3 separate regions of the Homo sapiens genome follow, and all the other regions are linked to region 1. Evidence: fine-mapped expression QTL. A gene starts in region 1. Each other region holds a variant in brackets. All regions are shown on one strand. Distances are from middle to middle.

The links. PIP is the estimated chance that this variant, and not a neighbour inherited with it, causes the effect.
Region 2: its variant is the best candidate, but not a certain one, in a credible set for the expression of NCAPG2 in whole blood (TOPMed, PIP 0.62).
Region 3: its variant is the best candidate, but not a certain one, in a credible set for the expression of NCAPG2 in whole blood (TOPMed, PIP 0.76).

The regions. Positions count from the first base shown.
Region 1 is chr7:158,702,913-158,707,153 of GRCh38, forward strand. It overlaps NCAPG2 (non-SMC condensin II complex subunit G2), which reads right to left and starts at 1,892. Exons shown (of 28, transcript NM_017760.7): 1 at 1,812-1,892. RefSeq lists an enhancer at 653-1,231 and silencers at 1,809-1,908, 2,059-2,148, 2,269-2,548.
Region 2 is chr7:158,744,008-158,748,248 of GRCh38, forward strand. It overlaps ESYT2 (extended synaptotagmin 2), which reads right to left. Exons shown (of 23, transcript NM_001367773.1): 16 at 4,187-4,241. Among named protein-coding and RNA genes, the nearest start is that of NCAPG2, 41 kb to the left of the region's middle. The variant T/C (reference allele first, on the strand shown) is at 2,027.
Region 3 is chr7:158,681,845-158,686,085 of GRCh38, forward strand. NCAPG2 (non-SMC condensin II complex subunit G2) reads right to left here. Exons shown (of 28, transcript NM_017760.7): 9 at 1,456-1,542. Among named protein-coding and RNA genes, the nearest start is that of NCAPG2, 21 kb to the right of the region's middle. The variant T/A (reference allele first, on the strand shown) is at 2,490.

The DNA.
Region 1 (4,241 bases):
AGTCAACAACAGACCACATGTATGACCGTGGTCCCATAAGATTATAATGCCATATTTTTACTGTGCTTTTTCTATGCTTAGATATGTTTAGCGATGCAAATACTTGCCATTGTATTACAGTTGCCTACAGTATTCAGTACAGTAACATTCTAGGAGCAGTAGGCTACACCATACAGCCTATGTGTGTAGGCTACACCTCTAGGTGTAGGCAAGTCCACTCTGTGATGTTCATGCAATGATGAAATTGCCTAACGACAACGTGTCTCCCTCTTTAAATCAAGCATGACTGGCACATTTTTCACTGACAAAGAAAATGGGGAGGGAAGGGAGAGTGGCCAGTAACAAGCATAATGAATAGTGGCTAGGACAAATTCATGATTTTAGAAAAATAATCCAATAAGGTGCAGCAAACACATGGAATCATACATCTTCGCCCGGCAAGTCTGTGAACACTCTCCACTTTTTCATAGTTCTGGTCACTTTTCTTGTTTGCTCTATTTCCAAGTGTACCTCTTTGGCATGTTAGTCCAACTTACAGTAATACACTTCCTCTAGACTACCAAACTTATTCCTATATTTCCCATTTTCCCTCTTATATTAGTGACTGTAATTTTTTAATGGTTAATTTTTCAATCTATCTCCCAAAGTGGCAATATTCCATGTTTCTTGTACCATATGTGCATAAGACCTCAGCCCTGCAGCCAGAATGCTACTTTCAAGGTAAGGAGTCATCTCACCATCCAGTTATCAGTCCGAAGAGCAGGTTACTCTTCGCACAGGAGGTCTGGTACTAAATCAAGATGAGCATTAAAAAGAAGAAATCCCTGTTACCTTCTCACCACCTGTGACTTCCCACTCCGTCCCCAAACTCCTTCCTCATGGACACAACAAGAGGCACCAAACCAGCAACAAGAGTTCAGGAGACTGATGTCTCTGAGGACAATGCCCACGTCCACAGCTGGGGAGATACTCTCTGAGGGCAGTGCCTACACCCAGGGCTCAGGGGGACTCTCTCTAAGGGCAGTACCGACACCCAGGACTGAGGGGACTCTCTCTGAGGGCAGTTCCCATGCCCAGGACAGAGGGGGTCGCTCTCTGAGGGCAGTGCCCATGCCCAGGACTGAGGGGACGCTCTCTGAGGGCAGTGCCCATGCTCAGGACTGAGGGGGTCGCTCTCTGAGGGTAGTGCCCATGCCCAGGACTGAGGGGACGCTCTCTGAGGGCAGTGCCCATGCCCAGGACTGAGGGGGTCGCTCTCTGAGGGCAGTGCCCATGCTCAGGACTGAGGGGGTCGCTCTCTGAGGGTAGTGCCCATGCCCAGGACTGAGGGGACGCTCTCTGAGGGCAGTGCCCATGCTCAGGACTGAGGGGGTCGCTCTCTGAGGGTAGTGCCCATGCCCAGGACTGAGGGGACACTCTCTGAGGGCAGTTCCCATGCCCAGGACAGAGGAGGTCGCTCTCTGAGGGCAGTGCCCATGCCCAGGACTGAGGGGACACTCTCTGAGGACGGTGCCCATGCTCAGGGCTGGGGGGTCGCTCTCTGAGGGCAGTGCCCGCGCCCGGGGCTGGGATTTTCCTCCGACACGGACAAGAAGGACGGGCGTCGCTGAGCTGGGTAGGGGGGATGGCCCGGGGTCGCCAGTTCCGTCCAGTTCCGTCAGAGGCAGCACTGCCCGCACGCAGGTCGGCCGCCTCCTTAGGGGAGGGGAGGCTGGGACCCCGACCAGCCGAGGAGGGGCTTCCCGCCCGATCCCTGCTACTTCCCAGCCCCTGCTCTGAACCCAATCCCGGCTCGGCACCGCAGCTCTTACCTGGGCTCGGGGACCCGCCGTTTCCCGCGCTCGGACCAGATTCAAACGCACCCGCCGGCGCCCCAGACGGGCCCCGCCCTCCCGGTCGTCATCAGGCGCCGCTCTCGCGAGAGCTGGGGCGCCGCGAGCCTCGGGCCTCGCCCACACGCCCGGCCCGCCCCGCCTCCAGATCATGCCCCGCCCACATGCCCGCCAGTCTTCTTCCTGTCTATGCCCCGCCTCTTAGGGCGCGGCCTCGAGCAGCTAAGCCCAGTGCCCTACCGGGCACTACGGAACGCGCACGCGGGGCGCCACAGCTGGGGAACCCATGCCCGGTCCGCGCGCCGACGTCCACTGCGCGCTCGTGCGCGTCCTGGGGCCTCCGCGGAGGGAGTGCGCGGTCCAGGAGAGGGCGGGGCGCTGCGAGCGGGCGGTGTTGTGGGAAGGAGGAAGGAGAGGAAGAGAGAGAGGGGGAGAGAAAGGAAAGGCTTGGGGCGGGGAGAGGCCACAGGGCCGTGTCTGGATCCCCGGGAGGACCCCACCCCGACCTGGCCGGCCCCCGTGACCGCCCTCCCTGCCGAGGGGGCACCTGTCCGGGTGGTCCGCAGCCTGCACACGGTAGGTGCACCCTGGGCAGGTGCTTCCCCCGCAGGAGCCCCTCCGGCCAGGTGCGGCCCCTAACAGGTGCTTCTCCTGCAGTTGCTCCTCCAGCAGGTGAGGCCCCCGGCAGGTCAGCTGCCCATAGGGTGGAGAGGGAGAGGCCTTAGCGGGGACCCTCGGAGGCACCCGTGTGAAGGAGGAGTAGCAATGTCATTCAATTCTTTGGACTTAAATGCCAAAATCACATACTGATGTATCAATCTCTTTTAATTTGTGTCAGCGAATAACTTGATTGGGCGTTCCCAATTTTTGTTGAAAGCAAATTCTTAGAAAACGGTGCTCTTTACCACCGAGCTCTGCATCCCTTCGTGAGGACTTGGCCTTCCCTGGAGCTATATTCTTTCATGCTTGAGATGTCTAGAGTGGTATCTGTTTTCCTGGCTTAACTCAAGCCAGAGGTCTTGGCGAGATTGAAGTCGTTGCACTGTGGGAGCACAGCACCAACCAATAGGAACATCATGGGAGCCACAAGTGCACTTGTAAATTTCTAGTGACCACATTAGAAAAATGAAGATAAATAGGTGACATTAATTTTTAAATATGTTTTATTTAGCCTAGTATATCAAAAATATTTATGTTACTTGTTGGAATATCGTTTCAACAAGCAATATAAAATTATAGCAGGGAGAAGACTGGTTTACTAGGAAGCTTGCAACAGTGAAGCAAGGCAGGCTGCAGAGGGGAGGGAGAAGACCCACTCAGAGGATGCTGAGTCTGGGACCCTTGTCAACAGGTGGCCGATATCTAACATTGCCTATTTCATCCTGGGGCTCCAGCCACCTCTGACCTCCTCCTCCCTCCATACACAGATCCTTCCCTGCCATTTCTTGAATTTTGGTGCCCTCATCTTCTCACTGCTTTCTTCTTAGCAATTTCCTTCATATCCAAGGTGCAAACTGCCACCTTCAAGCAGTGACCTCTGCATCTGGATTTGCAAGACACGGTTATTTCTGAACTCCAGAATTTTCAACAGCTCACTGCCTACTCCCACGCTGGTGCTGACATGCATCCAAAACAGATATCGACTTCCCCTCCCACCCCTGAATCCTGCCCCTTTCCTTATGCTGGTCCCTCCTCCAATCAGCCATCTGTTCCTGGGGTTTCCACTTCCTGAGTAGGAATAATGTAACAAGTTACGCATGTGAGCTCTGAAGCTGTACCACCTGGGCTAACCTGGTTCTGTGCTCACTAGCTGGTGACCTTTGACAAGCCATGGACGACTGAGCCTCAGTTTCCTCATCTATCAAATGGGACCTACTTAAGTACTGAGCCTCCTCTAGGGGGTTGTTATGAGGCCTAAATGTCTGTATAATGCAGAGCTCAGCCTCCTCTAGGGGGTTGTTATGAGGCCTAAATGTCTATGTAGTGCAGTGCTCAGAGGCACGTGGAAGCAGGGCAGCAGGAGCGCCCAGTGCACCCCCAATGCACCTGCCCATGCAGCCACTAATGTCATAGGATCCTTTGGGTATCGCTTCACCAGCTAGAAACCTCCGTGGCCAGCGGTGCCTCTGCTAGAGTTTTGCTCGAGCCCACTCAGCCCAGCAGGTTGCACTCGGCTTGCACTACCAACCCAGATCCCACGCCTGCCAAGGGTGAGCCAGGTGCAGAGCGGCAAGGGGTATGTGAGCAAGCGAGCATGGGGTCCAACCACTGCGCACACCCAGCCATGCAGCTGCTGTGGTGGAGCAGGCAGCTCTAGGTGCCTGCACAGCTGCCGGCTCCATGCAAGGCTGTGGCTGGACCAGAGGTACCACAAGTGGCTTCCACTGCAGGCATCAGCATCTGGACAAG
Region 2 (4,241 bases), 41 kb after region 1:
CGGCTGCAGTGAGCTGATATCGCGCCACTGCACTCCAGCCTGGGTGACAAAACTGTTTCAAAAACAAACAAACAAATGTAGAAAGGTCCACAGACAATATTAGTCTGTAAGAAAGATATTTTTAAAAACCCAAACATATTTCAGCCATATTCTCTTAAGTAGTGTTTCCATAATGATTAACATGGTATGAAATCTCCTAACAAAGACACAAAACACTGTTAACAAGCAAAAGATCTGCTATTTCGTCATTATAGATTACAATGAGCACAGAAAGAAATGATGTAATAATGACAAATGAGAAAAGCAGTAATGACAATAATGACCAATCGGTTCGGAGAACCCTGGGTTAATAGGCAATAGTCTACCTGTCTTTTAACCCCTGGGAAAATGGTGGCAATACACACTCATAACGATGTATACAGTTTCCATTCATGACATTTATGGAGACAATACATTTCTAAGTACCTTTTAAGCCTTCTCCATTCAAAATCCACATTAAAGAAAATTTACAGCAAGGCATTTAAAAATTTTTTAAAAAACAGAGGTGGATCTCACTATGTTGCCCAGGCTGTTCTCAAACTCTTGGCCTCAAGTGATCCTCTCATCTCAGCCTCCCAAAGTACTGAGATTACAGGTGTGAGCCACCATGCCCAGCCTCTTTTTCCTGTATAATAACCTTCTGCATTATCTCTGCAACAGGAATTATTCCTGTTAGATGGCTGTAATATAAAATAATTTAATCAAATAGAGTAAGAACTCTGAAGGTTTCTCAGGCTATACAAAAATGGTCAGAGAAATTAACACATAACTACTCAGGAAAACCTAAAAGGTTGATTGCATATTTCTTTTCAAACTAAACTATAATCACAAAAGCAGTTTTAAATGAAATAACTATGACAATGTTTGTGGAACTTTAAAAATTATTTTTAAAATCCAAGGTCCAGTAAGCATAGATTATTTTGAGAATACAGAAGTGCACTTTATGAAGGAAAAACCAGCTAGACAAAACACAAATCCTTTTGTATAAAACAGAATGTAAAAAAGTATCAGATTGGGGCAAAAGTAATTGCAGTTTCAATGGCAAAAACTCCAATTACTTTTGCACCAACCTAATAAAACAACCAACACAGAATAATGAGACAGGGTCAGGCAAGCGGCATGACCAGGTCTCCTAGGCCCGGCTGTTCACACTCACCTATCTAATGAGACAGGGTCAGGCAAGCGGCATGACCAGGTCTCCTAGGCCCGGCTGTTCACACTCACCTATCTAATGAGACAGGGTCGGGCAAGCGGCATGACCAGGTCTCCTAGGCCTGGCTGTTCACACACACCTATCAAGAGAGGTTCAAGATACAAGTAGCAAAAACAGAGGCTGAGGAAAAAAACATAAATTCAGAGATTTAAACGCCATGCTCTTCATACCTGATATAAGTAGTCTGAGAACTAGTAAGGCCCCAGAGGGCCTGAGCAATGGCAATGCCACCAACCACCCTGACCTACTGACATTCATGAGACACTCGCCAACACCAGAAAGGCACACAGCCTACAGGTGCACGTGGAGTGTGTCCCAGGACAGGCAGTGCTCTGGGCCATAAAGCCGGTCTCAAACATAAAAGGGCTCATGTCATACAAAGTATGTACTCTGACCACTATGGAATGAAATTGGAATCAATAATAGAAAGATTAAAAAAAAATCCCCAAACATATGGAAACTAAATAACAGACCAAAATAACCCATACACAGGTCAAAGGAAAAAACTGAAAGGGAAATTAAGGAAATAATAATAATCAAAAGGAGACATCAACGACAAGTCAAAATTTGTGAGATGTAGCTACAGAATTTAAAGTGAAATTTATTGGAGTAAATGCCTACATTATAAAAACAGAAATGTCTCAAGCTTCTTCTTTAAGAAACTAGAAAAAGAGAAGCAAAGACCCAAAGTAAGTGGGACTGAAATAATAATGATCATAGTAGAAATCAATGAAATAGTAAAAGAAAAGCAATAATGACAATTAAACAAAAAAT[T/C]GGTTAAGAAAATAAAATCAATAAACATCTTGTAAGACTTATTAGGAAGAAGAAGAGAGAAGACAGGCCAGGCATGATGGCTCACGTCTGTAATCCCAGCACTTTGAGAGGCCAAGGTGGATAGATGGCTTGAGCTCAGGAGTTCGAGACCAGCCTGGGCAATGTGGTGAAACCGCATCTTTACATACATAAATAGACACACACACACACACACACACACACGCCCCTCCAACACACAAAAATTAGCTGGGTATGGTGGCATGCACATGTAGTCCCAGCCACTTGGGAGGCTGAGGCACACATACACACATACCCAAAACACAAAAATTAGCTGGGTGTGGTGGTGTGCACCTCTAGTCCCAGCCACTTGGGAGGCTGAGGCGGGAGGATTGCTTGAGCCTAAGAGGTCAAGGCTGCAGTGAGCCATGACTGCACCACTGCACTCCAGCCTGAGTGACAAAGTGAGACCCTGCCTCAAGAAAAAAAAAAAAAAAGATTAATAAAGCACCAATAATAAAGACAGTGTGATACTGGCATAAAGACAGACATATAGAACAATGGAACAGAAGGAATTCCAGAAACAGACCTATACATATGGGCAACTGAATTTCTGGAAAGTTGCTAAGCTAATAAATTAGGGCAAATAATAATCTTTTCAACAAAGACTGAACAACTGCACAAATGCTGAACAACTACACAGCCATATTAAGAAAAAGAGGCTGGGCACCGTGGCTCACAACTGCAATCCCAGCACTTGGGGAAGCAGAAGTGGGAACATCGCTGCTCGAGCCCAGGAGTCTGCGACCAGTCTGGGCAACACTGTGAGACCCTACAAAAAATAAAATAATTCTCTACAAAAAATAAAAAAATTAGCCAGGCATGGTGGTGTCTGCCTGTAGTCCCAGCTACTCCGGAGGCTGAGGCAAGAGAATCACTTGAACCCAGGAGTTGGAGGCTGCAGTGATCTGTGATTACACCACTGCACTCCAGCCTGGGTAACAGAGTGAAACTCTGTTCTCAAAAACAAAGAGGCGGGGTGCGTTGGCTCACGCCTGTAATCCCAGCACGTTGGGAGGCCACAGTGGGCGGATCAGCTGAGGTCAGGAGTTCAAGGCCAAGCCTGGCCAACATGGTGAAACCCCGTCTCCACTAAAAATACAAGAAATCAGCCAGGTGTGGTGGCGCGCACCTGTAATCCCAGCTCTCAGGAGGCTGAGGCAAGAGAATCACTTGAACCCAGGAGGTGGAGGCTGCAGTGACTGAGATCGCACCACTGCACTCCAGCCTCCATGACAGAGTGAGACTTCATCTCAGAAAGAATGAAACATTAAAAAAAAAACCCCAAACGTCTTACAAACTCAGTATTAAGAAGACAAATAACCAAATAAAAAAGACAGGCAAAAAAACTGAATAGACATTTCACCATAGAAGATACAAAGACCGTAAAAAAGCATAAAAAGGTGCTCAACGTCATTAGTAATGACGCTGAAACCACCCGGTAATACTCCTATCTACCCACTAACACCACAGCACTGGCGAGATGTGGGGCCCGCTCGACTCACATGCACTTCGGTGGGAATGTGACACGGCACAATCTCTTTGGAAAACAATTTGGCAGTTTATTAAGAAGCTAAACATGAACCTGGCAACCTGCTCCTGGGCATTTTACCCAACAGAATGAAGGCATATGTACACACAGTCTTGTATGTGATATTCACAGCAGATTTATATGTAATAGGTCTAAACCGGAAAGAACCCAATCTTTTATCAATGTCTTACTCACAGGTAAATGGATGAGCAAATTGTGGTATATCCATAACTACTACTCAACAATAAAAAAAGACAAACTGTGGGTATCTGCAACAACACAGGTAAACCTCAGAATAATTATCACCAGAGAATATAGACAACTAGAGGACATACCGCATAATTCTATTTGTATAAAATCCTGGAAAATGTGAACAGTAATCTACAGTGACCAAAGGCAGGTCTGTGTTTGCCTGGGGCTAGGGGAGGCCCGGGTTACAGAGAGATCTACCAATTGTCCTGATTCTGGCGATGGATCCCCAGGTGTATACACGGGTCACAACTCAGCAAATTGTATACTTTAAAAAGTCAATTATTTGTCAATAAATTGGTTAAAAAATGCAAATAAAATACCTCAACTTCAAGGTCCTGGCGCTTGGGATTGTGAATGAAGAAAGTGAAGTTTTCC
Region 3 (4,241 bases), 21 kb before region 1:
CTAGAACATTTTCATCAACAATGTTGAGATTTTTAATTTCAAATGATGTCTGAAGCACTGCCTGAAACCTCTTTCAATATCAATAAAATGACTTATCAGATAAATTTAATAGTTATCAAATAAAAACAATTTGAGGAAGAAACTATAATGTGTTATAAGTTGTGACAAAAACAATTACTTGGAGTTGAGTAACACGTTTCACTTGAGTGAAATCTAATATTCTCCCTTTAAATTCTTTTTGTGCATTTTTCCATAAATTTACCAAATAGTGATATCTATACTTATAATATCTTAATTACTCAGACTACCACAGCAAAAATAACATATGAAAACATACATAGTTTACATATAAACTACACATATAGTTTACATAAACATAGTTTACATAAATACATAGTTTAATGCAATTCTACTAAATAAAATTTGAAACACCAACTCATCTATGTGAAATAAATAACCCAAACTGACTACAACTAAATAAAGCCACACTGGGATGGGGGTGGGGGGTGGGTAGGACAGGGAGTTCATTGAATATATTTATCCTAAATATATGCAATCACGATTTTTAAATCCTCTGGAAAACTCAGTAGTCTAGATAAATCTCTGGGTTCTTTATCCTTGTGTAACTGAAATTAAATCATCAATAATGCAAAGAAACATTTTCTTATCCACTCAAAATTAATATAATTAGTATATTTACATTCTATAAATAGCAGTAGTTTCACTCTACAACAAAACAAAGAAATGAGTAGTCTTTATTCACTTGGTTTCTTGACATATGGTTGCCAAAACTAACAGCAAGCAAACAAGGCATCCCATGGGTTAGAACACTGATCAACAGCAGCTGCTTAATTTAAATAAACACAGCAGACCAGATTTTCCCATTCCTCCTGCCAGGATCCTTAAGATCCATCAAACACCTATCAGTGTAGTAATGGCACTGATGATAGAATCTTATCTAGTCAGTCCATTTACAATTATTAATATAAAGGTAAAGTTCATATCTAAATTCTGAGATTAATCTAAATTCTGAGATTACCTTTACAGAACAAAATATCAAAAGAAACAATCAAAACATTTATTCATTTGGTTTGCAGAAGAGCAAAATTGGAATTTAATAAGTAAAATAATAAAAATAATTTCAAATACCCTCTAGGATCTTTGAAAAAAATGATAGTGGCCATTAGAAACCAATAATTCTGGAAAATCTCAAGACAGAGAATTGAATTTAAGGTCATTCAAATACAATACTAACCATCTCAACAATACACCTTTGCTTTCCTCATTAAAACTTTGGTGGCAGGAATAAAACTGCCAGACATCAAATATCAAGGTTCTGAGAAATCCCCCTAACTGATGTCTGTGAAAGCTTAATTTTAAAATTTAACCAAAACAATTATCTAAAAACAAAACAGAGGAAACATTATTTCAAAAACAATCTGTTCACAATCTTACCTCCCGCACTTTGGAATGCACTGGAGACCTCCTCGGAAGGTGTATCCCGTGGAACATGAAGTCCTGGATGCAATCATTTTCAATCGCCTGAAATAACAAATGCAATGCAAAGCACTTGGTGTGTGTGTGTCCTACTGACGACCTGACAAGCAGTGCGGCATTTGAGTACAAAGAGTCTGACCTGTCCATCTTATATTTCATGAGAAAAAAACCTGGACCCTTTTGTCCAAGCTTTCTTATTTTAAGTCCATGCTTCTTAGAATCCCTTTGGTTTTCTTATAGCAAGGAGAATGCTTTGCTTCTCTTTTATTTGATGAAATATCAAATCTGTGCCAAATGGCAATGTAAGATTCCACCTACCACTCAAGGCTAGTTCAAATCAGACAAATTTCAGAGACTGAGTGCATGGTGAGTGTGGAGCCCCCTCTTCTGACTCATCACTGACCTGGACAACCTTCAGAAGACTGGATTTGTTCCAACAGCCTCCACAGAACAAAAACAGAACTACCTCTACGGCGGAAACTGTAAATAAGATATTTCAGGGCCACTGTTGACAAGGGCTGAGCAAGGAAGGTGTGTGGGAAGCCCTTCATCAGCCCCATGCACTAATGGTACTCAGAGTGCAGCAACTGGGAAAAGGCCTAGCCTCTAAGAGTAGCAAAAAACCCCAGTGGACCCTATGTCTGTACCTGTACTCTGTGCCCACCCTCACACATGAGCAGGATTTCTGTGGCTTTGAGGAAGGACCTAAGGAAACGCTCCTAGGGTTAATACTAATACAAACCAGAGTCTGCAGATGCTCAAGTTCCTCTTCCCCATTATATTTGAAAATATTTCCTTCACCTGAAGTCACTTAGCATCACTTAATGTGGGACAACCACACATTGTCTGACTTGCAATGAAAGATGAGATACACAGCACTACCTGGGAAGTTATTTGTACCATAAAAGTTGAATCCAAACCTTTAGAGCTAACTATCAGTATGCCAACATTCTACAGGACAACTGGTCCAGTTTCCTCACATGCCAATGGCA[T/A]AGATTTTAAGAAAAGGAAAGGAGGGAGGAATGCTCTAGAATAAGCGATTTTAATGGTATAACAAGCAAATGCCATGTGGGCAACTTGTTGAGTCCTAATTCAAAAAAACTCTAAGGAGACATTTGAGATCACTGGAAAAATTTTAATGTGGCTTGATTATTTTTAAAAATACCAAGGATTTACTGTCACATTTTTAGGTCTTACAATGGCATTCCATAAGCACATTTTTGAGAGATGAATAAAGTAGTATGTAGAAATGAAATGTCAGGTCTGGAATTTGCCTGAAAAACTTAAAGAGAGGGAGGGCAGAGAGGAATGGAGTGAGACTGAGAAATACACATTGTTGATACCAATTTTGTATACATCTAGTCAAATAGTTTTTATTTTGTTTATTTTTCTGTAGAGACAGGGTCTCGCCATGTTGGCCAGGCTGGTCTCAAACTCCTGACCTCAGGTGATCCACCCTCCTCGGCCTCCCAAAGTGCTGGGATTACAGGCGTGAGCTACCACGCCCAGCCTATTTTTTATTTTCTAGAAGTCAGTGATAAACCTTGGCAATACAAATCAAGTGTAAGTTGTGCAGAGGAGCAGAGAGGATGGAAGTAAACCCAGACATGGGGCAGCCTCTGTCCACTCTGCAGGTTCCTCCCTCTGCCCATCAGTGCAGGGCCTGCTCTCCAAAGAGGAATGAAAAGTCAGGATAGAACACAGGGTTGTGAGAGGCTCCTTTCTGACCTAGAGTAAAAATTTTATTCTCAGAGAAAAATAAAATGATTGAGAACCTGGTATAAGAAAAATATAAGGGAAAACAAACACACTTTTTTGTCCAAAAGGGTATCTGGATGTTGAGTTGGGATTGTGGATTACATAGCCCTATCTTCATAACATAAATACTATGTATTCACCAGAGTTACCCATAATCAAAGAAAATATCTTCAAATTCTCAAAAATAATGTAACTAAAAGAGGTGACTTGAAGTCCCTGAACGGCACTATCCAATAGAAACTGAATGCAAGCCACAGATGCAATTTTAAATTTTCTAGTGGCTGCATTAAAAACAGACAAAAGAAACAGGTAAAATTACTTCAATATTACACAGTCATCCCTTGGTATCCATGGGGGATCAGTTCTAGGACCTCCCTCAGAGACCAGAATCTGCGGATGCTCAAATTCCTCATATAAAGTGGAGTAGTATCTGCATATAACCTATGCACTCCTGCACACTTTAAATCATCTCTAGATTACTTATAATACTTAATACAGTGTCAATGTTATGGAAATAGTTGTGACACTATATGTGTAGGGACTGATGACAAGGAAAAAAAAGTCTGTACATGTTAAGTACAATGCATTTTTTTCCCAAATATTTTCGATCCTTGGTTGATTGAATCCATGGATGCGAAACCCACAAAGGGCCAACTACCACATTTCGCCTAATACATCCAAACCACTAACATTTCAACATTCACTCAACATTTTTAAAAAGTACTGAGATATTTTATATTCTCATTTCCATATGAAGTCTTTGAAATCTGGTATGTTTCTTACACTTACAACACATCTTGATTCAGACTGGCCACGTTCCAAATGCCCAGTGAGCACATGGCTGGAAAGATCAGGGTCAGAGCTCCCTCCCAGCTGAAAGAGCACAGTCCTACCTCCCACAAACCACACATCTTAGCAAGTGACTGGATTGCCCATCAAATAGATTTTCATTATTTGGCTTTATTTTGACAGAGTGCATAAACATG